Linked DNA regions of Homo sapiens: regions 2 and 3 are each linked to region 1. Evidence: fine-mapped expression QTL. A gene starts in region 1. Each other region holds a variant in brackets. All regions are shown on one strand. Distances are between the middles of the regions.

Region 1 (10,475 bases):
GAGGCGGAACACGGAACCCTGGGAGGTGGCCACGGAACCCGGGAGGTGGGCCACGGAACCCTGAGAGGTGGACCACGGATCCCTGGTAAATAGACCATGGAACCCGGGGAGATGGACCACGGAACCCTGGGAAGTAGACCACGGAACCCTGAGAAGTGGACCATGGAACCCTGGGAGGTGGACCATGGAACCCTGGGAAATAGACCATGGAGACCTGGGGGATGAGCCATGGAACCCAGGACTTGAGAGATGGAGATCCCGATCCTAGAAGGTCTGTTTGCCAGGCCGACTCCTTGTGGCAGTGGGGCCACCCATGGAAGGAACACTGGTCTAGGTTGCACCTTACCCACGTGCACCTCCAGGGCTTCAGGGTGGGAGCCTCGCCAGGTCACCTCCACGCGCTGCAGACGGCCCCCCTGGAAGCCGAGGCTCTCCACTATGGGCTGAGTCTGGGCCAGGAACAAGACAGCACAGAGAGGCTTGTGAGAACAGCACCCCTGGGCCCAGGCAGGCCCTCTGTGACTGCCATGTCCCACGCCCAGCTGATACCCAGTTCCCCTGGGTATCAGGGGTGGGCTTGATGTCAGGGATGTTGTTTTCTGCTTTCATGGGCTCCTCCATTTGCCTTAACCCCATCCTTTAGCTCCAGAAGTAGGAACATGATCCAGACCAAGCCAGTGAATTGCCTGAGAGATGGTCATATGATCCAGCCAGGGCCAATCAGAGTAAATCCCAGCTCAGTTAAAACCCCAGAGGGAGCCGGGGCAGTGGCTCATGCCTGTAATCCCAGCACTTTGGGAGGCCGAGGCAGGTGAAACACCTGAGGTCAGGAGTTCGAGACCAGCCTGGCCAACATGGCGAAACCCCGTCTCCACTAAAAATACAAAAATTAGGTGGGTGTGGTGGTGGCCGCCTGTAATCCCAGCTACTCAGGAGGCTGAAGCAGGAGAATCACTTGAACCTGGGAGGTGGAGGTTGCAGTGAGCTAAGATCATGCCATTGCACTCCATCTTGGGCAACAAGAATGGGAGTCCATCTCAAAACAACAACAACAACAACAAAAAAAAACCACAGCGTTTGTAACCTAGAGCCTCTGGCATCCACCTTACTGCCAAGAAGAAGTAAATGCCTGGGAATGAAGCCACCACAAAAGAAAGCAGAGTCAAGGCATGGAGTGAGACACTGAGCCCCTGGATCCAGCTGTGCCTGAAGCTCGCCCACTGTGGACTTTGCATCTCATGAGCTAAGAGCCAATGCATCCCATCTTCTTACCCTGCCCACCCATCTGCCACTCTGGCGTGGCCCCTGTCAGAGGTCTCACCTGAAACACCACCACTTTCCCATTGTCAGTCTGCAAGTAGTATGTCCAGGTGGAGGAGACAAATCCCTGGGCTGAGTTGACAAGGTCATTGCAGAGGGTGGAAAACAAGTCCAAGAGGGAGAGGGCCCCACTTGGAGCCTCCAGGACCTTTCTCTGGTGAAAAAAGGTCCAAGACACAAAGATGGCACCGAAATAGGGCATTAACCAATGAATGGGAGGGGGCAGGATGTGGTGGCTCACGCCTGTAATCCCAACACTTTGGAAGGCTGAGGCAGGCCGATCACTTGAGGCCAGAAGTTTGAGACCAGCCTGGACAACATCGTGAAACCCTGTCTCTACTAAAAATACAAAAATTAGCCAGGCATGATGGCGCACGCCTGGAATCTCAGCTACTCCAGAGGCTGAGGCAGGAGATTTGCTTGAACCCAGGAGGCAGAGGTTGCAGTGAGCCAAGATCACACCACTGAACTCTAGCCTGGGTGAAAGAGTGAGACTCCATCTCAAATAAATAAATGAATAAATAAACTAACAGGAGAGGAGCTAGGAGAATTCACTTGGATTGGATGTGGCTAAGTGATTTGGGCCAATAGGACTTCTTATAGTGAACACAGATCTCAGCGTGGCAGTTGGCTTCCTGTGTACCCTTAGGGAAGTGGATTGTGCTCTCTGAGCCCTAAAATGGGTATCGTTCTCTTCCTTCATGGAGTAGCCATGAAATTTCAACTAGAGGATGCCTGCCAGGTGCCTGGCACGGCACAGGCACTTAATGCGTAGTAGTCCCTATTACTAAAAATATCATCATCCTCATTATTCTTATTTTGACAGCGTCAAGACGGAGGTCTGATGGCCGGCCATGGTGGCTCATGCCTGTAATCCCAGCACTTTGGGAGGCCGACGTGGGAAGATCACTTGAGGTCAGGAGTTCAAGATCAGCCTGGCCAACATGATGAAACCCTGTCTCTCCTAAAAATACAAAAATTAGCCGATTGTAGTGGGGGGTGCCTGTAATCTCACCTACAAAGGAGGCTGAGGCAGGAGAACCACTTGAACCCGGGAGGCGGAGGCTGCAGTGAGCCAAGATTGTACCACTGCACTCCAGGCTAGGCAACAGAGCAAGACTTCATCTCAAAAAATAAATAAATAAATAAGAGGGAGCTCTGAATTGGAAGGGCTGACAGTGCAGTGAGCTTTTCTGAACAGCAGTGAAAGCTGGGAAGGGGTGGAGGAAAATGGGGGAAGTGGGGAAAGGGCTTTCTGGGGAGTCCCAGCCCCTAGGTCTCTGGCTATGCTACATGATTTTCTGTGCCTCAGTTTCCCCATGATGCAGCATTGCTTGGACTACAATAGATGAACCGTTATTATTTCTCCCATAAGGCAGTGTGTGCGTGCTTGCGAGGCAAGCCTGCTCTACCCTGAGCCGCAGTTCTGAGCCCCTCCAGGTGACAGTGACCACCAGCTCATCACAGGGGAAGGGCTTAGACCAGCACCTGGCAGCTCTGGGGGCGCCTAAGAGGAGTGAGGTGAGGAGTGGCCACAGCTCTGGTGGCTTCAAATCTCGCCCCTTGCACAGCCCTGTGTATGACCTGGGAGGTTGCCCCCTGGGCACTAAATGGGGGTGACATTGTCCTTTGTGCCTCCAAGTGACACAAAAACATTTGGGACAGGTTGAAGTCAGGCCCGAACCAGGACAGATGTTTGATAAATGATGGCTGTTTTCTGCCACTTATTCCTGAAAAGGTGGTGGGGCATGGGGGGCGTTGTTGCATGTAACTAAGGCTGGAGACATGACGGGGCTGGATGGAGGTTGCCCTGCAGGCCTGGTATAGAACGCAGAGTCTGGCAGAGCCTCTGCACGTGAATGAAGATTTCCCACGGGGTGAAGAGGGTGGGGGTATTGGGAAAAGGGACCCCAGGCCGCAGTGGGAGGCCCACCTTCTGCTCCGGCTCAGGCTCCGCGGGCTGGCTCCAGCAGCCGTGGCTACAGGCCTGCTGCTCTGCCTCCTTCACATAGGCTTCCACGCAGGCTGTGGGAGGTGGGAGCGGGTGACTGGGGACGGCCCTTCCCAGGCCACCTCTCCCCACGCTGGCCCACCCTGCCGGCGGGCCCTCACCTGCTTCACACTCAGTTTGGGTGGCATTGGGCTTGGAGCTTCTGGCCACAAATCGGCAGATGGAGAAGAGGCGGCAGCCACGCTCGCAAGCGCTGATCAGAACGGCTCTGTCATAGGGAGACTCGGAGGCGCCCTCCAGCCCCGCCTGGGGGAGGGGAGGACAGGGGGCTCAGGCCATGGGGAGGGGCAGGAGGAGGGTGGGGGGACCGGAGCATTCAGCAGAGGCAGGGAAAGGCTTCCCCGCTCCCCACGACATCTAGCCAGATGGAGATGAAGTTGGGAGAGGCTACAAATATTAGTGGGGGCTCTTAGCTCTGAGGAGGGAGATGGGGAGGGAGCTTGAGAAGAGAAATGGACAGTGAAGGTGGAGAGAAATGAGCCTTCCCCCCACTAGGTTCCAGGGAGGAGGGGAGACATGGAGAAGGATTCTCAGACCTGGAGGAGGAGGGGGAGGCTCAGAGGAGGGGGTTTTGGTCACACGCAGATCAGGCTTGAATCCTGGGGAGTGGTGGTATGAGTAGGGGCTGGTAGCTCTGAGTGGGGAGGGAACACGATGTGGAGGAGGAGGAATGAGGTGGGGGGACCATCAGGCCTGAGGGAGCTGGGGGTTGGGTGCTAGAGGGTCCTTACCCAGCAGAGTGCGGAAGGAGCCCGGGAGGTGGTATCGGCCCCTTATCGCAAGGACCTGCATCCCCAAGCACTCCCCCATCAGAGGGAACCCCAGCCCGTCAACTACTGGAGAGATCTCCCCATTCCCGACCCCCACCTCCCCACGGACACCCCCACCAAAGTCTCCTGCTGTCATCCAAGAGAAGCCCATCCCAACGCCTCCTCCTTCGGAGAGATCCCGCGTCCCCCGCTGGCACCTGGCACCGCACGCGCCTCACCTGCGAGGGCTGCGGGCCGAGGTCGCGGTCGCGGCACCGCAGCTGGCAGTTCTGCGTGTCCCCGAGCTGGGGGGCGAAGGGATCGCGGGCGGACGGCGCGGAGGCGGCGGGCGGCGACGCCAACAGCAGCAGCAGCAGCAGCGGCGGTGGCATCAGCGCCACCGCAGCCATGGCCGGGCGGAACGCGGGGGGCGCGGGGGACTCCAGCTCAGGCCGGGCACGGAGGATGCAGCGGCTGCGGCGGGGACCGGGGCGCTGACGTCACCCGAGCGAGGCAGCCTGGGAAGCGGGGGGTGGGAGATGCGGAGAGCGGGCGGGGTAGCTGCGCTGCGGCACCCGAGGCGTGCGGGTCGGGCGGGGCAGGTGCATCGCGGCCCCCACCGTCTATCCCATCGCGGGGGTCCCAGGACACCTCCCTGGTGCCCACGGGCGGGGGATCTCTGCTGGCGCTTGGGGCCAAAAGGAAATATATAGGGGGATGGGATGGAGGGGACTATTCCCCAGGGGTGTCGAGGAGAGCGGAGAGCTTGGCGGAGGAGGCGACGTGTGAGCCGACCACGCGGGAGAGAGGAGAAAGGGGTGTCCAGGCTACAAGGATCAGCGAGGATCCTGAGAGAAAGAGCTTGTTGCAGGAGGAGGGAGGGCGATGGGGCTGGAGTCCAACCAGGGAACGGAGAGGGAGGAAGGTGAGAGCCGCAGGACCCGGCAGCTGAGTCCTGGCATCTTCTCTTTTGACACCCAGGTTAGAAAGGAGACAACTTGCGCGCAGTTTGCCTCCTCCGGGAAGCCCTCTGAGCCCCTCCCTTGCTCCTTCAGCCTCGCCTCCCTCTGGCCCAGCCCTGATCCACTGACCTAGGGAATCTGGCCCTGTCTCCCCAAGGCTGGAGACCCCTGGGCTGGGGCTTAGTGGGAGGGGACACAGAGGTATGCTCAGGAGCAAGGGGAGGGGGTGATGCTGACATGTCTAATTCTCATGGGAAAACGGGGCAAATAGCGACACTTCTGACTTCCATAACCATCACACCCCAGGGCGATGGACTGTAGCCCCAGGAGCCGAATCTCGGTTAGAGGGTACCCCCAGCTTCCTCTCCGCCAGATAAGGGAGTGGGGACGCCCCTCTAAACCCGGATCCTCTGCAAAGATGCCCCCGCTTTCGCTGGCATGCCTGGCGCAGGTGCCTGCAGCGCCGCGCAGCAGCCCGCAGGTCCCCCACCTACGCTCCGCCCCCGCAGACGGGGCGGCAGCCTCGCAGGGTCTGCGGGTTAGAGGGCGGCTCAGGTTTCGGCCTGGGAAGAGGGTGTCCCGGGTGGGGGCCCGGCGCACCCCCTACTCTGGCCTGCGGCCGCGCTTTCATCTCAGCGGCCCCCGGCCGGCCCCCACGTGGCTTAATCAGGCGCGGCTGTGCCTGGCGGACCCCGAACATCTGGATCCCGGTGCGGCCCCTCCCCCGCCCCGCCCCGCCCCTCCCCTCCCCTCCCATGCTAGGCCGCTGCGACCCGGCGGCGAGGGCCTCCAGCCCGCAGTTTGCGCCAGAATCCAGCAGGAGAATTCCGCTTCTAACCCACCCGCGCGCCAGGCCCGCACCTTGGGAAACAGCCCTGTGCGTTATGACCAATACTGTCCCCCATTTCACAGGTGGGAAACTTAGGCTCCGGGACGCGTTGGCAAAGTCAGGATTCAAGCCCACACATGCTAATTCCAGAGGCCCGCGCGCGCCTAACCCCTCCACAATTACTGTCTTTCATTCATTCCAACGAAACACTTTTTCTTGCAACAACCGTATAAGACAGGTACCGGTAGCGTTGCCCTTTTATATGGGTGAGGAAACTGATGCTCAGACTGCAAAGTGGTTCTGTCCAGGTGACAGGGAGAGAAGCAAAGAAAAGCCGGCAGAGCCCTGCCAATGATGGGAGGTGACCTTTGGGCATTGCTTAAAACGCATCAGGGAGGAGGGACACCCCGCGCCCTTTTGCAGAAGGAGAAACTGAGGCTGGAGGAGTGGGTCGATCACCCAGGTCGCCTGAGGGGAGAAGGGAAAGAGGCTGATTGCCGCACACCCAGCCCCCTTTCCGCTGCACTAGGCCGCTGGGGGGGTGAGCGGAAAGAGGACTTGACCCCGGCCCCCAAGGTGAGCCCCCGCGCCCCTCCTGCTGTTCCCGGGGGAGCCGGTCCAGGTGAGGGGCGGGAGGGCCGGCGGGCGGCCAGGGTCGGGTTTCAGGAAATCCGCCGACATTCCTTCGGGGCTTAAGAGGGAAAGTTGACTCGGCGCCGCCCTCGCCCCCCCCCCCACTTCCTACCCCCCGGGGCGGCCTGGCTGGGGGCGGCAGGCGGGGGGCGCTGAGGCCGGCCTGGGCGTGAATCAGCGGCAGGCCAGGCGTCCGGGAAGCCACAGCAGCCGAGGTCAAGGCGGGCAGCGGACAAGCACCCTTTGTCCCTTGCCGCCCTCACCACGACCCTGCTGACCCCCACCTCCAAGCAGGGTACAGGCCAGGGAGGAGGCAGAGCACCATGGCGCCGGTGGTGGTTGCTGAGGGTTGTTGGGGGAGGACGGAGGGATGTGGCTGTCCCCCTAAAGCAGCTGGTGCCTCCTGGGACCCAGACTTCAGAGGCTTCTCAGGGTACAGACGGGCAGGGAAACTGGCCTCCCTGGGGCAGGCCTGCAACTTCCCAGGCAGGTCCCCTAGGCAGGTCTGCAACTCCCCAGGTCCCGCCTCCAGTGCCTGAAGTCCAGTGTGCATTACACTGAGCACCCAGGCATTGCTTCTCCCCAGGCTCAGCCTCCAGGGCAGAAATTATAAAGCCTAGGTACACACGGGCCCCACTTTCCTGTGCCACAGACCCTGAACCAGGTGTCCAGACCCTCACTGCCCCTTAATTCCTGAAAGCACCTGCCTGGAACACCAGGTAGCTAATCCCATACTGGGGAGCCCTGAGCACGGGGCTTTCAGAATGGGAGAGACAGCTCTCAGCCTTCCTCACTCCCAGTGGTTGTGGGTCCCCACAGGACCCTGAAGGTGCCATTTCCACTGCCCCCTCCCTGGTGCACCCTCAGTGCCCTGGAATCACGAGGGAGCTGGGGATGGAGGCCCCCCCCCCAACCTAATACCTCTCATCCAGAGGTGACCTTGGAGTGGAGGGTGCAGGACTAAGGAGGGGTCCCTCCCCCAGCCCAAGGGGAGGCCCTCCCTCTGCCCAAGGGGAGGCCCTCCCTCCTTCTGCCCCTTACACATTCCCAGCCAACTTCAAGGACTTGGGTCAATATTTGCCAGAAGTTCCATTGACGCTAGCTCCCTTTTGTCCTCAAGGAGATAATGGAACTGGGGAGTAAAGGGTTAAACTTCTGGGGGCCCTAAGGGCCGGGAAGGATGCACTCTGGGGTCAATTCCCTTTCCCTGAAGTCAAAGGTGTGGGGTAAAGATCACCCAAGGGCAGAAGTCACACTCCAGGGTGGGGCTGGGCAGGATTGGAAAATGGTCCTTCCCTTCTGTTGGTAAGAACAAGAGAGGGATGTCTACTGGCTAGGGTCACACAGCAAGACACAGAGTGTGGGCCAGGCTAGGACCCCAGGCAGCATGACTTGCTAGGACTGAGTTTTCTTGCTACTTGGAGGGAGTAAGAGTTCTCCATCCTTTACTTTTACAAATATTTAGTGAGTGCTTCGCTTTCAGCCCTCACTGGGCCCACCACTGGGGTCCAAAGGGGCTGAGGCTGCCCACAGTCTAAAGAAAATCAGTTGCACAAGAAATGAAATGGTTGGAAGAGTTGTGTTTCAAAAACAATAAAACAAAGTGAAGGAGAGGGAGAGTGCTGGGGGAAGGGTGGAGGGCCTCTCTGAGGAGGTGGCACTAATCCTGTGAAGTGATGGAAGAGAAAGGGCCAACTGGGGAAGATGTGGGGAACAGCATTCCAGCAGAGGGAACAGCCAACACGCAGAGGCCCTTCTATAGTAACAAGCCTGGTATGTTTTGGGAAACAGGGCTCCAGTGGCTGGGGCGGAATGAGGGAGAGGAGGGGGAAGAGGAGAGGGAAGAAGAGGAGGGGAGAGGATGGCGAGAGGGTGGCAGGACAAAGATCTGCTTTTTCTTCTTTTAAAAGCTCCCTCTGCCTGGTGTGCCGAGAAAGGCAGAAGGGTTATCAGGGAGGCCCTGGAGGAGGCCGGGAAGCATCCCTGAGGGAGACCGTGGGGCCTGGATCTGAATGGGGTGGGAAAAAGGGGTCAGCATCTCAGAATGGAGATGTGTTTTAGAATCAGAGCCAACAGGATTTGCTGATGAATTGGACATGAGGGATGAGCAAAGGAGAGAGTTGTCACGTGCGCTTCCAGGTCTCTGGCCTGAGCACCTGGATGGATGGGAGAGCCCTTTCCCAAAACCAAAATGACTGGAAGAGAAGCAGAAATGGAGGGAGGAAAAAATCAAGGTTTTGCTCCAGAAGCCTGAAGTCCTCCCAGGAGGGAGTGAGGCGTCTCTATCCACACAGAGAGCATCTGCAGACAGGAGCCATGGGGGAGTAGTGGTGAGTATCCTAAAAACTCAATTCCAGCCAAGGACTGCCACCTCCACTTAACCCTCTGGGTCCCCTGGCAGGTGGGACTATGGCTCCATGTTTCAGAGGGGACAAGCAGGGCTGGGGGTCACCTCTGCTCCAGGATATCCTCCAGTGCTGTGCTAAGGGCTTGGATTGTAGAGACTTCTGCTGCCCTGCGTCTTCCCACAGAAGCTCCTAGACTGGGTGGTGCCCACTGTGCAGAGGAAGAAACTGAGGCACAAAAGGCCTGGTTTCCCGAAGTAAATGGCAGCGTCTCTCCTTGTCTGTCTTCTCCATCCAGAATTCAGATGGAGCAGGGGCGCCCTGGGCCCCTATAGGCTCCCATCCCCCAATCTTGTTTTTTGACAGTCTGGAGTCTGAACTGGAGATTTAAGTAGGAGAGGGTGGGGCTTCAGTCTTGGGCAGACAAATGGGGGCTCCTGAGCCCCCCTCAGACACTTTTACCCCCTTGGCTGGTTGGGGACCAGGAGAGAGAATCCAGGCCTCTAAGGGACTCCTGGAAAAGGGGACTTGGAGCCGTTCCCTTCCCTGGGCGCTGCAGCTGGGGGCGGGGCTGCGACCAAAAGTGGGTAATTGCACCCCCCAACTCTCATTTCAGGCACCCCCATCCGCAGCAGCCTTGGAGGCCAGGAACCCTTTATTCCTGGGCGCCCGCATCGGGTGGGGACCGGGAGGAGGGAGATGAGACGCCCGGACCGGGAGGGGTCCCGAAACTCGAGCAATGGCCAAAAATAATAACACGGAGAAGGCTCTTTGCGCAAAAGAAGGAAGACAAACTATGCGTCGCTCCGGGCAGCCGGCGTTACCTGGAGTCGGCGGGCGGTGGCCGCCGAAGCGATTACTCACCGCGTGGCGCACCCCACCCGCGGGCCGCTGAGTGGATTTTTCCGTGGCGGGGTGTGAATAGGTCCCGGGGAAAGAGCTTCTTACCGCTCTCCTCCTGGGAATCCCTCTTACTGCGGTGCGGGACCCAGTTCCCGCGCAGGCCTGGGTCCCGGCTCCCACAGGGGACTACATCTCCCCGTCTGCCCACGCAGGAGCTCCCTCCCGAGGCCCCCGGGGCGCCCAGAGCAACCTCAAACCCATCCCGCGCGCGAAGGGGACAGCGCAGCCAGGGCGAAGGCGAGGGACTCCGTGCCTTCCTGCTTTTTCTCCTTTCTTCCAGCAAAGCCTGGGGCCGAGGCTACTCGCGGAGAATCGAAAAGAGGCAGGATGAGGTGGGAGGGCTGGAACCCGCGCGCCGAGGGCGTGGGGCTGGGGGTGACTTTTAGGCCCCTGGGAAGGCTGAGGGGCTGGAGATGGGGGTAGGCGGGACTCAAGGACCGCTCGGTGGGGGGGGCGGGGCCAGAGCTGGGGTGGGGGCCGAGACAGAAGATTGGGCCGTGGAAGGGGGAATGGAGGAGTGGGGCAGGGTTGGGGACCAAAGGGGCCACTGAAGAGGCACTGGGCTGAGAGGAGGGTGCAGGGAAGTGGGCAGGGTTATGGAAACGGGATTGGGGGTGCCGGGTCCCAGACTGGGGGTGGGAAGCCTGGAGCTGGCAGGGTTGGAGAGGGAGGTCCTGGGCCGGTAGGGGTTGAGTTAGGGGGCTTTGGGCCGCGGGATAGGGC
Region 2 (10,475 bases), 110 kb before region 1:
GCCATCTGACCACATCGAAACACATAGCTAAGGCTCCCTCTCCAGGCCCCAGACAAATGGCAATCAGGCAGAAATACCAACCAGATGCCCCCTTGCCCTCCAGAGTTCTCTCTCAGGTCTTTTATCTAATGTGACGCAAGCCCACCGTTAGGAAACCCATACTGGACCTGGGGTCCCCGGTGAACTGGCCTTGGCCACAAACTTCCAACACTTTAAGCCACAGCATGGAGACACCACGTGGCTCCGCACCTCTGGGCTGTGGTGACACAGACACCCACCCTTCATCCCTTCCTCACGCCCTGCTACTTCCTGAGAGCTGTCTTCAGAAGCAAGGATGCTAAGGCAGATGGGAAGAGACAGGTCTCCGTCTCTCCCCATGGGGAGATTGGAGATAAGATGTCAACAAACTTACAAACGGTAGGTGGACGGTTAACAACATCCGAAAGACAAAACCCACCAAATAAATGGATAAACAAAATGTGGTCCATCCGTACAACAAAATATGATTGTAGGCCGGGCAATTACAGTGGCTCAGGCCTGTAATCCCAGCACTTTGGGAGGCTGTGGCAGGTGGATCACTTGAGGTCAGGAGTTTGAGACCAGCCTGGCCAACATGGTGAAACCCCATCTCTACCAAAAATACAAAAATTAGCCAGGAGTGGTGCCCCATGCCTGTAATCCCAGGTACTTGGGAGGCTGAGGCAGAAGAATCGCTTGAACCCAGGAGGCAGAGGATGTAGTGAGCCGAGATTGCACCTCTGCACTCCAGCCTGGGCAAGAGAGCAAGACCCTGTCTCAAAAAAAAAAGACTGTAGCACTGATCCATGCTACAGCATGGACAAACCTCGAAAACACGATGCTGAGTGACAGAAGCCAGACATAAAAGGCCACATGGTGTCAGATTTTCATTGATATGAAATATCCAGAATAGGCAAAGCCACAGAGACAGATTAGTGGTTGCCTGGGGCTGGGAGTGGAAATGGGGAGTGACTACCTGCGGGGTGAGGTCTCCCTCTGGGGAGATGGAAATGTTCTGGGCGCAGACAGAAGGGAAGGTTGCACAGCACTGGGAGTGTGCTACACGCCACCACGGCATGCTCTAAAATGCTTAATTTCATGTTATGTGAACATCATGTCCATTCAAAAACTGGTGGCCGTCAGCAGTCCTTGGCCTCCTTGGCTTGTGGCCGCATCACTCTGGTCTCTGCCTCCTTCATCACGTGGCCTTCTCGCTGTGTGCCTGTGTCTTCTCCTCTTTAAATAAGGACACCAGTCATGGGATTCGGGGCCAATCCTAAATCCAAGACGATCTCATCTCAAGGTCTTTCACTTCATCACACCCCCAAAGACCTTTTTTCCACATAAGGCCAGAGTCACACGTTCCAGGACTTAGGACATGGGCGCATATGTCTGGGGGATACTCTCCAATCCACTCCCCCAGCATCTCTGAAGCCAGCTGGGAGGCACCTGGCATGCCTGTGGCCTGCGTCCACACCCCAGGTCTCCTCTCCCCAGCCAAGGGGCCCCAGACAAGTTGATAACTGCTTGGCATGTTTTCTCGTCTCCCATTCAGGGCTGCAAGCTCCCCATGGCAGGATGGCAGCAAGGCTGGGATGAATCTCATCTGGAACTTAGTCAGCGGATGCATAGGTGTGGGGGTCTCTGGTGCATATCCCCAAAACCCACAGCCTCTGGTGACTCAGGGCAGACTCCGGCCTCTGCTGAGACCCCGGCTGCACGGTGACCTAGGTACTCCCATGTGCTGGATCATGGGGTGAAGTACGTCACAGCACCTCCTGGGCAGACCCAGAGGAGGCTGGGGGACCTCAGTAAGGGCCAGTGATGATGGACTTGGCAGAATGTCTGCTGTGGGTTGCCTGTGTCCCCTGGAAACACATAGCCATGTCCTAACCCCGCCATCTATGAATGTGACTGTATTTGGAGAGAGTCTTTGCAGGTCGAGGCCAGGTGCATGGCTCACGCCTATAATCCCAACACTTTGGGAGACTGAGGCAGGTGGATTGCTTGAGCTCAGGAGTTTGAAACCAGCCTGGGCAACATAGCAAGACCCCGTCTCTACTAAAAATACAAAAATTAGCTGGGCATGGTGGATCACGCCTGTAGTTCCAGCTACTCAGGAGGCTGAGGTGGGAGGATCGCTTGACCCCAGGAGGCAGAGGTTGAAGTGAGCTATGATTGTGCCTCTGCACTCCAGCCTGGGCGACAGAGCAAGACCTTGTTTAAAAAAAAAAAAAAAAAAAAAGGCCGGGTGTGGTGGCTCATGCCTGTAATCCCAGCACTTTGGGAGGCCAAGGTGGGTGGATCACAAGGTCAGGAAATCGAGACCATCCTGGCTAACACTGTGAAACCCCGTCTCTACCGAAAATACAAAAAATTAGCCGGGCATGGTGGCGGGCGCCTGAAGTCCCAGCTACTCGGGAGGCTGAGGCAGGAGAATGGCGTGAACCCAGGAGGCGGAGCTTGCAGTGAGCCGAGATCGCGCCACTGCCCTCCAGCCTGGACGACAGAGCGAGACTCCGTCTCAAAAAAAAAAAAAAAACAGAGGTTGAACTGGAGTAGGGTATGCCTTAAATCCAATGACTAGCATCCTCAGAAGATGAGAAGAGACACAGTGAGAGGAGGTGTCCACATGACAATGAAGGCAGAGACTGGAGTGATGCAAAGAGCGCCTAGAGCCACTGAAGCTGGAGGAGGCAGGAAGGATCCTCCCCTAGAGCCTCCTGCAGGCACCAGCCCTGCCGACACCTGCACTGAATACATTTCTATTGTTTTAAGATACCCAGTTTGTGGTCATTTGTTACAGCCACCAACAGGAAAGGAAGGACTAAGGCCCCACGCATGTGTGCAGGCAGTGTACTCGGGCAGAGAGGGCCCCATGCATGCGTGCACATAGTGTACATGAGCAGAGAGAAAGAGAGGGAATTCCAAAACTCAGCCGGGTGCAGCAGCTCACACCTGCAATCCCAGTACTTTGGGAGGTCAAGGTGGGTGGATCTCTTGAGGTCAGGAGTTCGAGATCAGCCTGGCCAACATGATGAAACCCCGTCTCTACTGAAAGTACCAAAGTTAGGCCGGGCGTGGTGGCTCACGCCTGTTATCCCAGCACTCTGGGAGGCCGAGGCGGGCGGATCACAAGGTCAGGAGATCAAGACCATCCTGACTAACATGGTGAAACCCCATCTCTGCTAAAAAAAAAAAAAAAAAAAAAACACTAAAAATTAGCCGGGCGTGGTGGCAGGCGACTGTAGTCCCAGTTACTCGGGAGGCTGAGGCAGGAGAATGGCGTGAACCCGGAAGGCGGAGCTTGCAGTGAGCCGAGATCATGCCACTGCACTCCAGCCTGGGTGACAGAGCGAGACTGTCTCAAAAAAAAGAAAAAGAAAGAAAGAAAGAAAATACAAAAGTTAGTCAGGTGTGGTGGCTCACATCTGTAATCCCAGCTACTCGGGAGGCTGAGGCAGGAGAATTGCTTGAACCAGGGAAGCAGAGGTTGCAGTGACACGAGATCGCGTCACTACACTTCAGCCTGGGAGACAGTGAGACTCCATCTCAAAAACAAAACAAAACAAAACAAAAAAACTCACTTTTTCTCCACCTTGACTCAAAACACATCTCTTGGTGCACACTTGTGTTCTGGAATGTGCAAGCACACGTCTATTTGTAGCTGGGGGAACAGATCCTTTGCAGTTTAATTTTAAATCTTATCACCAATTGAATAATGCAAACCACTGGCGGGGATGCTGGCCACTTGAAACAGGGTCTCCCTCCCCAAGAGCGGCCCCTGGGTCCCAGGCAAGAAGCCCGACGCCGACGCTGCCCACATGGACGGGCCTGGGGCCTTCCCGGAGCGGGCCTGTGCCCATCTTGAAAATGTCAGGCCTGGTTTCTGACAGGTGCCGGACCTAACCTCAGGGAAGTCAGATCCCAGACACGGCAGAGGAGGCCCAGCCCTGCTCGCCCCGGGTCAGCCGCCCGCAGGCCTCTGGGATTCTGAGCACCGCGGGGCGATCTGCCAGGAGCCACCTCCGGTCGAGGCGGAACAAATGATTTTTGAAAACGGCATCTGCCTGCTGACACAGGGCTTGCTTGGGGTCTGGGCTGAACCCGCCTCTCTGAGCAGCTCTTTCGACGCTGCCTCCCCCCAGGACGGCTAAGACAAAGGCGAGATGCCCTCATTACCATGGGCCCAAAATAGCTTTTATGCTCCATTTTTTAGACATAGCTTGACTATGGAGTTACATAACACCAAAAGTCATTTTGTGATTTGGAAGGCCAGATCCTGGGCCTGCCGGGGCCCACCTGGTACCCCTTGAGTGCCCTCACAGCCCTGTCCCAAAGGCTTCACCCAGGCCCCTGAACTCCTAGCCAGGCCCCAGGTGGCACCTGCTGCAGGCCCTGGGGACCCGGTGGGGTTAGCCCTTGCCTGTCTCACCATCTTCAGGCCGCATTCTGGGCTAGCGGGGCCAGGCACCACATTTGGAGTGCCCAGCAGACACACACGATGCAGGGAAGGACCAAGCCCAGAGGAGGGGTCACTAGTTGGAGGCTGCGCCCGCCAGGGTAGAAGAAGCAGGGACAGAGGCTGGAGGTGTCCCTTTCCTCTGCCTGCCTCATCACTCCCATGATCACTTCCCAGCAGCTCGACTTCCAGGGCCCATCGTCAGCCCCCTCCCTGGTACTAGCCCGTGTCATCTCGCACCCAGACACCCACGTGACCTCCTCCCAGGCCTCCCTGCTCCCTCTGCAAGTGGCTGCCGAGACTCCTTCATTTTCTTCTCTTTATTCATTCAGTTCAAATCGTGTTATGCTCCCGTTTTAAACACACCAGTAGGCTTCCATCCTATTTAAAATAAACCCCCAATCTGTATGGCGGTTCCTCAACAAGTGACATGCTGAGCTGCTGTTATGACCAAGCAATCCCACTCCTGGACGGATGCCCCCACGAAATGAAGACAATCATACATGAGTGTGTGTACCAGCACAATGGACAACAGCCAAAAGGTGGGAAAACCCACGTGTGTGCCAAGGGATGAATGAATAAGACTGGTCTGTCCATACAGTGGAATAAGATTCAGCCATGAAAAGGAATGAAGGCTGGGCACGGTGGCTCACACTTGTAATCCCAGCACTTTGGGAGGCGGAGGAGGGAAGATCCCTTGAGGCCAGGAGTTTGAGAGCAGCCTGGCCAATATGGTGAAACCCTGTTTCTAAAAAAAAAAAAAAAAAATTAGCCAGGCATGCATGGTGGTGCACACCAATAATTTCAGCTATTCGAGAGGCAGAGGTGGGAGGTTGGACAGAGCCCAAGAGGTGGAGGCTGCAGTGAGCTGTGATCGTACCACTGCACTCCAGCCTGGGTGACAGAGTGAGACCCTGTCTCAAGAGGAACAACAAAAAAGGAAGGAAGCACTGACCCATGCTACAATGTGGATGAAACTGAACATGTGATGCTGAGTGAGAGAAGCCAGGTACAGAAGGCCACAGGGTGTGAGATTCCATCGATCTGAAATGCTCAGAACAGGCAAATCCACAGAGACAGGAAGCAGATTAGTAACTGCCAGGGGCTGGGGAGGAGAGGAGGGGAGGGACTGCTAATGGGGACAAGGTCTCCTTTGGATGATGAGAATGTTCTGGAACTAGATAGCTGTGATGCCTGCACAATACTGTGAATGCGCCAAACGCCATGGAACTGTTCACTTTCAGATGGTGAATCTTATGTTATGTGGTGTTCACCTCAACAATAGATAAGTAAGATTCAAAGCCAGCCCCGTGACGGGGCTGCCCAGGCCCTGCTGTCTTTTTCTTCTCCCTCACTCCTGTCCCTACTGCCAGGTCCTCTTCCTGCTGTCAAAGGCCTTCTCCCCAGGGGCCCTCTGCTTGTACTGTTCCTGCCTCACACACGCACCCCCGTGTCTGGAAACCACTGCTGCCTTGACCAGGGCTGGCATGAGAAACCGTCCTGCGAGAGGCCCTCCCATGTCCCTGCGGCCCTGCTCTGCTCCCACCCGGCATTTGGCCCACCCCGGAACCCTGCACCCTCCTCTCTGAGCTGCATCCTCCAGCCCCGCCCATACTCACTGTAGGCTGAGACTGGAAGGCAGTGTTTGAGCCCAGGGGTCCTGCATCCAAGCTGGTGGCTGCACGCATCTGTGTCTGCCTCTCTGGGCCCCAGTGCCCCACACACAGGCAGAAACACAGGCTCCTGTGAGTGAGCACTACGACCCTTCTGAGGGGACAGTGTTTGGGGTGATCAGCTCCAGAGGGGAGGGACTGGCCCCTGAACAGTATGGGGTGGCAGCCCTGCTCCAGCTCAGCATCTATGGCAAGGGCTCCAGGGATGCCCTTGACCCCAAGGGCCACTACCCAGTGGTCATTACTGCACCAAGGACAGAGGCCACAAGGAGACAGACCCAGTCCTGGCTCCCACACAGCCTGAAGACCCTGGGAGAGGGTGCTAGGGGAAAGACTTCCCCTGGGCCCTCCACTCCCAAGCCCAGCAGCCCCCTCTCAGCCCCACCCTGGGAGTGCCACCATCACCCCTCACTCAAAGCTCCCCAAACTCATGTCTCCAGCCCAGCGCCAGTCACCCACCAGGGAGGCTGTACAGACATCACACGTGTTCACACACATGCACCCAGCCACATGTGTGCACACTCACAGCAATGCACATAGTCACATAAACACATTCATGCACGTGCATGCACATATGCTCACACGCACACACACATGCTCACACTCCTGTCCTGCCTGCACTCCTGTCCTGCCTGCACGCCAGCTCCCACTCACTTGCACACACACGAGCACATTCACAACTGCCCAAACCTGTCCCTTCCTTAGGAACCCCCCATGCCCCACCTGGCTCCCCCATGTCCCAGCACCTCTTCTGCCCTCTCGCCTCTTCTGTCCTCATTCTGGCCCAAGCCACATCTTCTCTTGCCTGGACAAATACAGAAGCCTCCTACTGGGGTCTCAAGTTAACCCTGCAGCGCCCAAACCACTCAGCTGGAGTCTCTCCAAACTTCCCACCTGAGCAGGTCACTCCAGCTCTACAGGAAAGACGACACAGCATGCTCTACTCGCTAGCCCCTATACTAGCCATGCCCTCTCCACACACTAATGCCCGCTGGGCTCTCCACACGCTAATGCTTGCTGGGCTGCACCTGGGCTAAGAGTCATGCAGGAGCCGGCCAGGCACAGTTGCTCACACCTGTAATCCCAGCACTTTGGGAGGCCAAGGTGGGTGGATCATGAGGTCAGGAGTTTGAGACCAGCCTGGCCAACATGGTGAAACCCCATCTCTACTAAAAATACAAAAATTAGCTGGGTGTGGTGGCAGACGCCTGTAATCCCAGCTACTTGGGAGGCTGAGGCAGAGAACTGCTTGAACCTGGGAGGTGGAGACTGCAGTGAGCTGAGATCGTGCCACTGCACTCCAGCCTGGGTGACAGAGCAAGATTGCGTCTCAAAAAAAAAAAAAGAGTCATTCGGGAGCCACATTCTGGCCCCACCTCCAATAATGACCCTCAGGCTGATGTCCCCACCCTAAGACCACAGCCCCCAACAAGGGTG[G/A]GCTGTGGCTGCTGCACTCACTACAGGGTCCCCAGGGCGGGGCACTGGGCAGGGCAGCGGGGGGCACATGCCACCAGTGACTCTGGGAATCCCGGAGGCATCCCTCCCCACCTGCAGCCCAGCAAGGGGACCATTCTCAGCATCCCCGCTCTTTGGCGACACCCCCCCCGCCAACCGCTGCCAGCACATAAGCGTACACCTGTCCCAGGCTTCGGGTGCAGGAATGCCGGGGACAGCTCCAAACAGCAGCCAACCACAAGCAGTGGCAGGAAGGAGCGTGGGCTGCAGCAAAGTCAACAGGGAAACAGGATGCAGCCCTGAGCAGGGTGGGTTCAGCCAGGTGGGCCCCTTGGCTGGGACAAACCTCCAAACAGGCCAACTCAGAGAGACCCCCTGCCTGGGAGCCCACCTGCACGTGCAAACAGCACTTGGTTCCAAGATGCAATCACACAAATGACGAAAGCAAAAGCATCATGATGTCCACACACTGAGAAGCAGGGGAAGAGGGGAGGACAGGCCCGTCCCCGGGGCCACAGGTGGCTGAGGGGAGGCTGCAGCTCCCTGCTGGGCATGGGGCCTGCACCACAGTACTTACTTTCTGTTGTGGGACGTACTCCCAGAAAAGTATGTCCAAGTCCTGACCCCTGGCACCTGGAATGGGAACTTACTTGGAAATAAGGTATTTGCAGCTGTAATTGAGTTAAAGTCATGTTGGAGTAGGGTGGGCCCTAATCCAATGGCAAGGGCCTTTAGAAGAGAAGAGAAGGGGTATTAGCCAGGCGTGGTGTCGTGCACCTGTAATCCCAGCTACTTGGGAGACTAAGGCAGGAGAATTGCTTGAACCTGGGAGGTGGAGGTTGCAGTGAGCCGAGATCGCACCACTGCACTCCAGCCTGGGTGGCAAAGCGAGTCTCTGTCTCAAATGAAAAAAAAGAGAGGAGAAGGGGAAAGAGATGCAGACACACAGGCCATGTGAAGACAGGCAGAGACTGGAGTGATGCGGCTACAAGCCAAGGAGCTCCGGGAGCCCCCAGAGGCAGGAGGGATCCGCCCCTAGAGGCTTCTACAGATAGTCAACCTTGCCCACACCTTGATCTTGGACTTCTGGCCTCCAGAGCTGGGAGAGTATACATTTCTGTTTCTTAAACCACCAGATTTTGTGGTCATTTGTAGTGGCAGCCCCAGGACAATAATAAAAACTGTGCTTGAAAGGTCCCTGAACAGGCACGGAAATCCTTCCCGAAGCCCAGGCTGGGAACTGCAGGCCCCAGAGCCCAGTGGGGGCAGGAGAGGCCCTCCAAAGGGCTGAGGGAGGGCAAGGGAGCATATAGGCCCAAATATTCAGGGTGCAGACAGCAGGATGTGGCCACAGGGTTGGAGGTTCCCCGGGGGTCATCAACATTTGGGGGTGAGAACGACACCTCAATCCCTAACCTGCCATGCTGAAATGAGAATGCTCTGGAGAGACCTTTCTGGGGATCACAGCACAAGCTGGCCAGTAGCCACATCTGACCAGTGGACGGGAAGCTGCCCTTGTCTGTTTAATGAGCATTAGTTTTAGGCCGAGTGTGGTGGCTCACACCTGTAATCCCAGCACTTTGGGAGGCCAAAGCAGGCGGATCACGAGGTCAGGAGTTCGAGACCAGCCTGGCCAACATGGTGAAACCCGCTCTCTACTAAAAATACAAAAATTAGCTGGGCGTGGTGGTGCACACCTGTAATCCCAGCTACTCAGGAGGCTGAGGCAGGAGAATTGCTTGAACCCAGGAGGCGGAGGTTGCAGTGAGCCAAGATCACACCACCGTACTCCAGCCTAGGTGACAGAGCAAGACTCCGTCTCAAAAAAAAAAAGAGTGTTAGTTTTGTTGCAAACCGAATAGCAGGTGGATGGAGTGCGCCCGCCTGGACCCACTGGGGAAGCTGCATCATGGCTGCATGTGTGCTGTGATGTCTTCCTGCAAATGGAGCTATTCTGATTCCTGATTTCTGGGGCACCCCAAACCCTAGCATGGGATACAGGGCTGTGGAGGGTGGCCTTGGGTGTGCATGGCTCACCCAGCCTCATGCATACGTGTAAGGACAGTATGGGCTTGTGTGGGGCCTGGTGTGCCCTCCCACCCTGCTGCTTCCGGGCACGCTAGGGTGCCAGGAGAGGTGAGCGTGGGCCGCCCACAGGAGGCATGTGGCTGCTATTTTTAGTGTAGGTTTCCACACTTGCAGGCCCTCCCAAAACAGCCCTACCCACCAGGCTGGGGAGCGGGCTGCCAGTGGTGCAGGGCTCACCCCAGCAGATACTGCAGGGCTGTGTCCTCCAGCTCCCACCTCTGCGTGGCCTTTTGGGATGTCAGCTCCTCCCCGCGCGTGCAGCTGGGTGTACAGAAAGGGGCTCTGTGCCTGGGCACGCCACTTCATATACTTGGGCCTTTGCTTCACGCGCAAGTGGAATATTCCAAATGGACCTGGGCAGGAATCCCAGCCAACACGAACCTGGACCTTGAGCTAAGGCCAACCGGCGGTGAGCCTGGCCTCTGCAGAGCCATACAGAAACACTACAGACCCCAACAACAGGCCCAGTAACATTGGAGGGAGGAGGGGCACGAGGAGGACGCCTAAGGGTGCAGGGCCTCAGCTCCCACAGAAGGGGCACAGCAGAGAACAAGGAAAAGGAGCTTAGAAAACTGGTCTACTCCGGGAAGACAGCCCGGCCACTACTCAAACAGTTAAACCCAGAGTCACTGCAGGATCCCGCAATTCCAGTCCTCAGTATAGATCCAAGAGAACTGAAGACAGTGTCCACACAAACCCTGCAACACACATGTCCATGCAGCTCTGTTCATAACAGCCAAAAGGTGGAAACAGGCCAAATGCCCATCAACAGACAAGTG
Region 3 (10,475 bases), 94 kb before region 1:
TGCCCTCATGCTCCCCTTCAAAGCGGCCCCGGGGCCGCCAAGGCCAACGCGTCCCACTGCCCCTCACTCTGGGTCAGCAGCTGTGTGGGCTGAGCTGACCCAAGGCCTGGAGGGAAGGATGGCTCCCCGACTCCCAAACAAGAAGTCCTCCCAGGCCCCTCCCCGAGAAGCAGGCCACCTGGGACGGGAAGGTTCAGTGCTAGGATGCCGCATGTGGCCAAGCAAAGCTGGGAATGCGGGTCTCACCCTGAGCCAAAACCCCAAGGAAATTTACTGCAGCTCATCCAGCAGTTAACTGTTAGCAGCCCTGGCCACAGCAGACTCCCCATCAGCTGGAGGCCTACAAAGCCCTGGGGAGGGGGCACTGTGGGGTGGGACAGGGTGAAGAAAGAGGGGTGACTGGCCAAGCCTGGGCATGGGCTTCCTAAACAGTCAAGGGTGAGGCCGGGCGCGGTGGTTCACACCTGTAATCCCAGCACTTTGGGAGGCCAAGGCTGTGGATCGCTTGAGGTCAGGAGTTCGAGACCAGCCTGGGCAACATGGCAAAACCCAAACCCCATCTCTACTAAAATACAAAAATTAGCCGGGCACAGTGGCGGGTGCCTGTAATCCCAGCTACTGGGGAGGCTGAGGCAGGAGAATCACTTGAACCCAGGAGGCGGAGGTTGCAGTGAGCCGAGATCAAGCCATTGCACTCCAGCTTGGGTGAAAGAGTGAGACTCTGTCTCAAAAAATAAATAAATAATAAATAAAAAATAAATGTAAAAAATAAACAGTCAAGGGTGCCTGAGAGTGTGACCCTCGCTACCCTCTGACCCAAAGCCCCCATGGGAGGGAACAGCTCAACACAGCCAGGAGCCCGGCCGGCCGCCGACTCACACTGGCTCCTGGCTCCCACCCCCTCCAGCAGCCCCAGAAAACCCTGCATGTCCAGCTCACCCAGAGGGATGGTCCCTTTCAAGAAGGATCTGCTGGCCAGACACTGCCCCCAGGCAGTAGGACGGGAGGCCAGGGAGGGACGTCGAGGAACGGGGAGTCCACAGCAGGGGAAGCCACAAGTCCTTGCTGGCCCAGGACAAGCTGTGCTGGCTCAGATGGGCATGGGCCGGGCAGCTGGGTGGGTAGATGGAGGAAGGAAGTGGGAGACTTCCGAGTGAGTGGGGCTGTGCAGAAAACAAGCTGGAAATGGGGTGGGGGGAAGGTGGCCAAGGAGGTGACGCTGGAGCTGGGAAGAGCACTCCAGGCAGGAGGCCCCGTGAGCACAAAGGCCCTGGGGTCACAGAGTGACCATGACAGTGGCTCGCCAAGGAAGCCAGGGTGGGCAAAGAAGTGTGGGGGGGCGGGTGCTGGGCTCAGAGCCTCAAGAGAGCTGAGCTTTGTGGGACCCCATCCTGGGTGGGACGAGAAGCCGCTGGAAGGATTTAACCAGGAGTGACCTGAGCTGTCCTCCCTGTGGCAAAGTCACCGCTGCTGGAGGAGGCAGGACTGATGGGCCAGGGCAGGGCAGGCAACATGGGAGCAGCAGCCCATCCACGGCAGGGAACGCCAGGCAGCTGTCCCCGGCCTCAGCCCTCGGAGCCCTCAGGTCCTAACTTTAGGGCTCCTGATCCTGGCTGCGTTCCAGGCTGGGGTCCCAGCATGAGGAAGCCCGCCCAGGGCAGACGGGACCCATCTCCCCCAGGTGGAGTCCTAGGTGCACTGCCGGCTTCCCAGAGGACCTCAGCAGGGGTGTCCGCAGGTACAGAGGCTCATCCCAACTCCCATCCATGGCCTTGCTCAGACACAGCCCCCAGCCACCCTCAGATGCCCTCTCTGCTCCCTCTCAGCCCCATGCAGATACTGCCCTTCTTAACCTGCCCGCTCCCTCCTTCCTGTCTAGGCCCCATTTTGGGCCTGGAGGCTTCTCCCTCTGAAGCTGTCCTGGCTCCTGCCACCTGGCCTGTCCCCTGCACCAGGAGCCACACCCCCCTGCTGCAGCCCTTCTCCCACTGCCTGAGGGTTACGTGTGGGGGCAAGGTGGGCATAAAAAGGCACCATGAGGGGACATCAGGACAGAGGATGAGGGGCCAGGTGAGGGGAAAGGTGGTCCCTGTGTGAGGGAGGCTGCGGGCACCAGGCTGGGAGGCCCTGTCCCCTTGGCTACCACCTCCTCATGTGCACCCTGCCAACACCAAGCCTCTGCAGCTGCTCTGCCCACTGCCAGGTGCACCTGCGACTCTGGGCTCCACAAGGCCCCTCCCATGCCATGCCTGGCACCTGCTGCTCCAGAAACAGCCCTGGGACCCTGCACCTCCGAGCACCATGCGGGCTCAGAGGAGGTACCGGGTGGACATTTACCCACTGCACCCATGAGGCCTTCCCCTCAGCCTTCCTCCCGGGCCTAGAGACAGCACCCCACGGAGGACAGGACAGCAGGGAGCGGCAGGGAGGAGTCACCAGGGTGGCCACACGGCTGCCTGAACTGAGCACAGCTCTGGGCTTGCCACGGCGTGGGCAGGGTGGCTGAGTAGGGGCAGGAAACCAGGGTCCTCCTGCTTCTGGGCACCGCTCAGCTGGGAGCAGGGCCAGTGCCCACGGAAGATACCACAGGGTCCCGAACGGCGGTGGGAAGGGAAGGGCCAGGCCGGCCCCACAGGAGCCCTGACCTCGGTCCCCACGCTCCGTCTGCCTCTCAAACTTGGCTCCCCGAGGACTTGGCCTCTGTGTTTCTCACGTCACTCCTTACTGTCAGCTAACTCCCAAGTGCCGCCCCAGCCCTGCTTCCAGAACATTCCCTGTGATGCCCCAGGAGACTCCTCCAGCCCAGCAGCCCCTCACCAGGCTCGTCATGGTCCCGATTCCCCCAGCCAACGTGCCCAATTCACCTGGCCCTGGCAGACAGTGCCATGATCTTCCTGATGCTGATACAGAAGCCAGAAACCCGGGGTGGCCCCGTTCCTCTCTCGGGCACCCTGGGTTCACCTCTCCTCTGCAGTTCCTGAGCCCCTCCAGAACCCACAACTCCCTTCCCTGTTCTCCTCTCCAACCCCACCACCTTTTCTCTAGCCTTTCTTAAAGCTCAAAGCTGATCCTGGGTCACCCCTCCCCACCCCATAGCTGGCTGTGGGATCACGTCCAAGCTCTCCAGCTTGGCTCTTGGGCCTTTCCAGATCTGGGTCTCCTCTCTCCTTCCTCCTTCCCTGCCTCCTGTAGGCCTCTGGGCCCCATATATGCTGTTTCTCCTCCACCCAAAGAGCCTTCCCTTCCCTACCCACCTCTTGCACCGGCAACTCGGACCTCACCCCTAATGTCCCACTGCAGAGCTCTCCTCCTCCAGGCAGCCCTCCCAGGAGACATGGCTGCCTTCATGGAGCACTACCTGTGCAAGCTACAGTCCTGAGGACTGTTCATGCATTGACAGAGTTAGCCCCCTTCATGGCACATCTTACAGATGGGGAAACTGAGGCAGGGGCCAATTATGGGCTTGCCCAGGGTCACATAGCTGGGAGGAGGAGAGTGTGACTTCTTTTTGTTGTTGTTGTTTTAAATAGAGACAGGATCTGACTACGTTGCTCTGCCTGGTCTTGAACTCCTGGGCTCAAGTGATCCTCCTGCCTTGGCCTCCCAAAGTGGTGGGATTACAGGCGTGAACCACTGTGCCCGGCCACAACTTAATATTTCAGAGGTGGCAATACTACCCAAAACAGTCTAGATTCAATGCAATCCCTACCAAAATACCATTTCCTGAAGAAATAGAAAAAAATCCACCCTAAAATCCATATGGGATCTCAAGGAATCTGAAATAGACAAGACAATCTTGAAAAATAACAAAATTGGAGGACTCACACTTTGTTATTTCAAAACTTAACTACAAAGCTACAGTAATCAAAACAGTGTGGTACTGACATAAAGACAAACATCAAGACCAATGGAATAGAATAAAAGCCCAGAAATAAACCCTCACATATATGGTCAAGTGATTTTCAACAAGGGTGCCAAACCATTCAACGGGGAAGGGACAGTCTTTTCAACAAAACGGCTCTGGAAAAACAAGATCTCCATATGCAAAAGAATGAAGCTGTGCCCTGATCTAACACCATATACAAAAATTAACTCAAGACGGATCAAAGATCTAAAGCTAAAACTATAAAAGTAAAAAACTAAAACTGTAACTCTATAACTAAAACCATAAAAGCTAAAACTATATATACTAAAACTATAAAACTCTTGGAAGAAAACAGAGGAAAAGCTTCATACACTGGAGTTGGCAATAATTTCTTGGATC[G/T]GACACCAAAAGCACAGGCAACAAAAGAAAAAATACATAAATTGGATGCTGCCAAAATTAAAAACACTTGTGCATCAAAAGACGTAATCAACAGAGTGAAAAGGCCCCATTCCCACGGAATGAGAGAAAATATTTGCGAATCATATAGATGATAAGGGATCAATATGTAGACTATATAAAGAACTCTTACAACCCACCAACAAAAAGAAAAACAACCCAATTTAAAAATAGTCAAAATGTGAATGTACTAAAAAGCGCTAAAAAACAAGGGCAAAGGACTTGAATAAACATTTCTCCAAAGACAAATGGCCAATAAGCACATGAAAAGATGCTCAACAGCACTAATCATTAGGGAAATGCAAACCAAAACCACAATCCCTATCAAAATATCCTTTTTCGCAGAAATAGAAAAAAATCCACCCTAAAATCCATACAGAATCTCAAAAAACCTCAAATAGCCAAGACAATATTGAAAAAGAATAACAAAATTGGAAGACTCACACTTCTTGATCTCAAAACTTAACTACAAAGCTACAGTAATCAAAAGAGTGTGATACTGGCATAAAGAGAAACATAAAGACCAATGGGGCCAGATGTGGTGGCTCACGCCTATAATCCCAACACTTCGGGAGGCCAAGGCGGGGGGGATCATCTGAGGTCAAGAGTTCAAGACTAGCCTGGCCAACATGGTGAAACCCCATCTCTACTAAAAATACAAAAATTAGCTGAGTGTGGTGATGGGCACCTGTAATCCCAGCTACTCAAGAGGCTAAGGCAGGAGAATCGCTTTGAACCCGGGAGGAGGAGGTTGCAGTGAGCCAAGATTGCACCACTGCACTCCAGCCTGAGAGACAGAGCAAGACTCTGTCTAAAAAAAAAAAAAAAAAAAAAAAAAAAAAAAAAAAAAAAAAGACCAATGGAATAGAATAGAAAGCCCAGAAATAAACTGTCACATATATGGTCAAGTGATTTTCAACAAGGGTGCCAAACTACTCAATGGGAAAAGGATGGTCTTTTCAACAAATAGCTCTGGGAAAACAGGATCTCCAAGTGCAAAAAGAAAAACAACCCAATTTAAAATAGATAAAGTATGAATATACTAAAAAGCATTAAAAAAAAAAAAAAAGAGAGAGAGAGAGGAAAAGGAAAAGGGCACAGGACTTGAATAAACATTTCTCCAAAGACAGACAAATGGCCAAGAAGCACATGAAAAGATGCTCAACATCACTAATCATTAGGGAAATGCAAACCAAAACCACAATCCCTATCAAAATATCATTTTTTGCAAAAAAAAAATATTAGGATTAGTAAATATTAGTAGACATTAGGATGGCTATTATCAAAAAATCAGAAAATAACAAGTGTTATTGAGGATATGGAGAAACTGAAATCCTTATACACTGTTGGTAGGAACATAAAATGGTATAGCCACTACAGAGAACAGTGTGGCAGTTCCTCAAAAAATTAAACATGCTGGCTGGGCGTGGTGGTTCACGCCTGTAATCCCAGCACTTTGGGAGGCCAAGGCAGGTGGATCATCTGAGGTCAGGAGTTCGAGACCAGCCTGGCGAACATGGTGAAACCCCCATCTCCATTAAAAACACAAAGATTAGCCAGGTGTGGTGGCATGCGCCTGTAATTCCAGCTACTCGGGAGGCTGAGGCAGAACCGCTTGAACCCAGGAGGCAGAGGATGTGGTGAGCCGAGATCACGCCACTGCACTCCAGCATGGGTGGTAGAGCAAAACTCTGTCTCAAAAAAAATTAAACATACAATTACACATGATCCAGCAATCCCATGTCTGGGAATATACCCAAAAAAATTATGAGTAGGGACTCAAAGAGATGTACACCAATGTTCACAGCAGCACTACGCACAATAGCCAAATGGTGAAACCAGCCAAATGTCCATCAACAGATGAACGGATAAACAAAATGTGTCCCATCCATACAGTGGAATAACAGCCTTAGAGGGGAAGGACGTTCTGACACGTTACAACGTGGACGAACCTTGAGGACATTATGCTCAGTGAAATAAGCCAGACACAAAATGATAAATCCTGGATGATTCTCCTTACATGAGGTCCCTGGAGTCGTCAAACTCATAGAGGTGGAAAATAGGATGGTGGTTGCCAGGGGCTGGGAGGGAATGGAGGGTAGTAGGAGGGTGGGGGTTGGGGATTGGGGGGTAGGGGGTGGGTGGGTGAGTGTTTAATGGGGACAGAGTTTCTGTGCGGGAAGATGCAAAAGCTCTGAACACAGATGGTGGTGATGATTGCAAAACAATGTGAGGATACTTACTAAATGCCACTGAACTGCACACTTAAGGTTAAGACAGTAACTTACACGTTATGTGTATTTGTTTTGTTTTTGGTTTGTTTTTGAGACAGGGTCTTGTTCTGTTGCCCAGGCTGCAGTGCAGTGGTGCGATCATGGCTCACTGCAACCTCTGCCTCCAGGGTTCAAGCGATTCTCCTGCCTCAGCATCCCGAGTAGCTGGGATTACAGGCGCCTGCCACCACACCCAGCTAATTTTTGTATTTTTAATAGAGACGGGGTTTCAACATGTTGACTAGACTGGTCTCGAACTCCTCACCTCAGGTGATCCACCTGCTTCAGTCTCCCAAAGTGCTGGGCTTACAGACAAGAGCTACCGCATCTGGCCACATGTTATGTGTATTTTACTAACTTTAAAAAAAAGAAAAAGGCTGGGCATGGTGACTCACGCCTGTAATCCTAGCACTTTGGGAGACCAAGGAGGGTGGATCACTTGAGCCTGGGCAACATGGCAAGACCCCCGTCTCTACAAAAGAATTTTAAAACAAAGCCAGGCATGATGGTGTAGTCCCAGCTACTTGAAAGGCTGAGGTGGAAAGATTGCTTGAGCCCAGGAATTCCTGGCTGCAGTGAGCACTGCACTCCAACCTGGGCAACACAGGCAGATCCCTATTTTAAATATAAAAAAAGAAAAAATATAAAAAGAAAACGAGCACTTCACTTCTGTGGGATCCCCACCAAAATCCCACAACCTCAGTCCAATTGCCAGAAAACCTCCACAAGACCACAATAAGGACATTCCACAAAACACCTGACCAGCTCTCCTCAAGAGAGTGAAGGTCACGGATGATGAGGAGACATTGAGGAACCATCACAGATTGGAGGAATCAAAGGAGATGCTTTGACTAAATGCAACACGTTGCCAGGCGCAGTGGCTCTCGCCTGCAATCCCAGCATTTTGGGAGGCCAAGGCAGGCAGATAACTTGGGGTCAGGAGTTCGAGACCAGCCTGGCCAACATAGTGAAACCCCATCTCTACTAAAAATGCAAAAATTAGCCAGGCACGGTGGCTCAAACCTATAATCCTAGCACTTTGGGAGGCCAAGGCAAGCGAATCATCTGAGGTCAGCAGTTCAAGACCAGCCTGGTCAACACAGCGAAACACCATCTCTACTAAAAACGCAAAAATTAGCCGGGCATGGTGGTGCATGCCTATAATCTCAGCTACTTGGGAGGCTAAGACACCAGAATCGCTTGAACCTGGGAGGTGGAGGTTGCTTGCAGTGAGCTGAGATCGTGCCACTGCACTCCAGCCTAGGCGACAGAACAAGACTCTATCATAAATAAATAAATAAATAAATGCATAAATAAATACGTAAGTAAATAAATGCAACACACAACCCTGTCCAGAGAAGGTGCTTAAAGGAGCAATCCGGGGAAATCCAAACACAGTCTGGAGTCTAGTTAATAGAATTGTGACAACTGGGCCAGGAGCGGTGGCTCACGCCTGTAATCCCAGCACTTTGGGAGGCCAAGGTGGGCAGATCACGAGGTCAGGAGATTGAGACCATCCTGGCTAACACAGTGAAACCCCGTCTCTATCCTGACCGAGACCGTCCTGGCTAACAAGGTGAAACCCCATCTCTACTAAAAATACACACAAAAAAATTAGCCGGGCGTGGTGGCAGGCGCCTGTAGTCCCAGCTACTCGGGAGGCTGAGGCAGGAGAATGGCGTGAACCCAGGAGGTGGAGCTTACAGTGAGCCGAGTCTCAGCTATTCAGGAGGCTGAGGCAGGAGGACTGCCTGAGCCCAGGAAATTGAGGCAACAGAGCGAGAGCGAGACTCCATCTCAAAAAAAAAAGAACTGTGACAACTGGAGGTCCCAGCCCGGCCGTCGCAACCAGGTCACGTGTGATGTTCACAATGTGGGAAACAGGTGGGGGGTTATGGGTATTCCCTGCACTATCTCCAAAACTTTTCACAAAGTCTAAGAGACTATCTCCTGTGTAATCCCAGCACTTTGGGGGGCCGAGGCAGGTGGATCACCTGAGGTTGGGAATTCGAGACCAGCCTGACCAACATGGAGAAACCCTGCCTCTACTAAAAATACAAAATTAGCCGGGTGTGGTGGCGCATACCTGAAATCCCAGCTACTCGGGAGGCTGAGGGCAGGAGAATCGCTTGAACCCGGGAGGTGGAGGTTGCGGTGAGGCAAGATTGTGCCATTGCACTCCAGCCTGAGCAACAAGAGCGAAAATCCATCTCAAAAAAAAAAAAAAAAAGACTATCCCCTAAGAAGCCAGGTATGGGGCTCAAGCCAGCACTTTGGGAGGCCCAGGCAGGAGGAGGATCACTTGAGCCCAGGAGTTTGAGACCAGCGTAGGCAACACAGGGAGACTCCTGTCTCTACAAAAAATATATACTAAAAATTAGCCAGCTGTGGTGGTACACACCTATGGTCTCAGCTACTCAGGCGGCTGAGGCAGGAGGACTGCCTGAGCCCAGGAAATTGAGGCTACAGTGAGCCAAGATCACACCACTGCAGTCCAGCCTGGGCAACAGAGCCAGACCTTGTCTCAAAAAAAAAAAAAAATGCTGGGCACAGTGGCTCACGCCTGTAATGCCAGCACTTTGGGAGGCTGAGGCGGGCAAATCACCTGAGGTCGGGAGTTCAAGACCAGCCTGACCAACATGGAGAAACCCCATCTCTATTAACAATACAAAATTAGCCGGGTGTGGTGGTACACGCCTATAATCCCAGCTACTCGGGAGGCTGAGACAGGAGAATTGCTTGAACCCGGGAGGAGGAGGTTGCGGTGAGCCGAGATTGCACCACTGTATTCCAGCCTGGGCAACAAGAGTGAAACTCCGTCTCAAAAAAAAAAAAAAAAAACAAAACGGTGGGCGCGGTGGCTCATGCCTATAATCCCAGCACTTTGGGAGGCCAAGGTGGGCGGATCATTTGAGATCAGGAGTTGGAGACCTGCCCGACCAACATGGTGAAACCCCGTCTCTACTAAAAATACAAAAAAAATAAAAAACATTAGCTGGGCCTGGTGACACACGCCTGTAATCCCAGCTACTCAGGAGGCTGAGGTAGGAGAATCGCTTGAACCCAGGAGGTGGACGTTGCAGTGAGCTGAGATGGCGCCATTGCACTCCAGCCTGGGTGACAGAGTGAGATTCTGTCTCAAAAAACAAAAAACAAAAATCCTATCTCATAAGAAACAGTTAACAGCAATGAATACTCCCTCAGGTGAAACTAAACAGATGACCCATAAGCCACACAGTGGCAGCTGTCATATTCTGGGCCAAGGCACAGAGGTGAACAAGGTGCGATCCTGCTCTCACTGTTGCCCCAAGTAGCAGCTCAACAGCTGGCCTCGGCCAAGCAGGCATCTTTCAAGGTGTGCACCCACCACGGGCCGGGCACGGGGCCAGACACTTTGCGTGGATGCATCATCTAATCCATGTGACGACTCCTCAAGGGGGCTCTGTGAGCACCCCCTTTTTACAGCCAGGAAACTGAGGCACAGAAGGGAGGGACTGTTTGGCAGGAGCCAACAGAGGCGCATAGAGCAGCGTGATGAGCCCCGGGCTCTGGGGGCGGGCCCGCGAGCAGGCAGCCTCCACCCCATGGTGGACCTTCAGGCTCCTCCTTCTGCCCCGGCTGAGCCGGCAGTGAAGGGATTAGCGGGCTCCTTGCCGAACAGAGGCCGAGGCCGCCTGGGCGCAAAGATAGGCTGTTGGGACCATAAATCATCCCCAGGGTCTGTGCATTTATTCTGTGATGATATAATGAGCCACTCCTGTCCTAATTACAGCCACCAATCTCGCCTGCCTGGGAGGACCGAAGGGATCCCCGCAGCGATGGAAGCGGGATGCGCACAGATGCGAAAGGACTCAATGGTGTAACGCAGCAGGGAGCCTCTG

The links. PIP is the estimated chance that this variant, and not a neighbour inherited with it, causes the effect. A credible set is the group of variants that fine-mapping cannot tell apart.
Region 2: its variant is the best candidate, but not a certain one, in a credible set for the expression of TMEM59L in cerebellar hemisphere (GTEx, PIP 0.52).
Region 3: its variant is the best candidate, but not a certain one, in a credible set for the expression of TMEM59L in cerebellum (GTEx, PIP 0.57).

The regions. Positions count from the first base shown.
Region 1 is chr19:18,606,974-18,617,448 of GRCh38, reverse strand. It overlaps TMEM59L (transmembrane protein 59 like), which reads right to left and starts at 4,579. Exons shown (of 8, transcript NM_012109.3): 1 at 4,320-4,579; 2 at 3,433-3,577; 3 at 3,254-3,345; 4 at 1,322-1,474; 5 at 347-449. The coding sequence starts at 4,490. RefSeq lists an enhancer at 2,866-3,386.
Region 2 is chr19:18,713,281-18,723,755 of GRCh38, reverse strand. All of the region lies in intron 1 of CRTC1 (CREB regulated transcription coactivator 1), which reads right to left. Among named protein-coding and RNA genes, the nearest start is that of CRTC1, 35 kb to the right of the region's middle. The variant G/A (reference allele first, on the strand shown) is at 7,591.
Region 3 is chr19:18,700,883-18,711,357 of GRCh38, reverse strand. The region is part of intron 1 of CRTC1 (CREB regulated transcription coactivator 1); the gene reads right to left. Among named protein-coding and RNA genes, the nearest start is that of CRTC1, 22 kb to the right of the region's middle. RefSeq lists enhancers at 554-1,548, 10,052-10,101, 10,445-10,475. The variant G/T (reference allele first, on the strand shown) is at 4,265.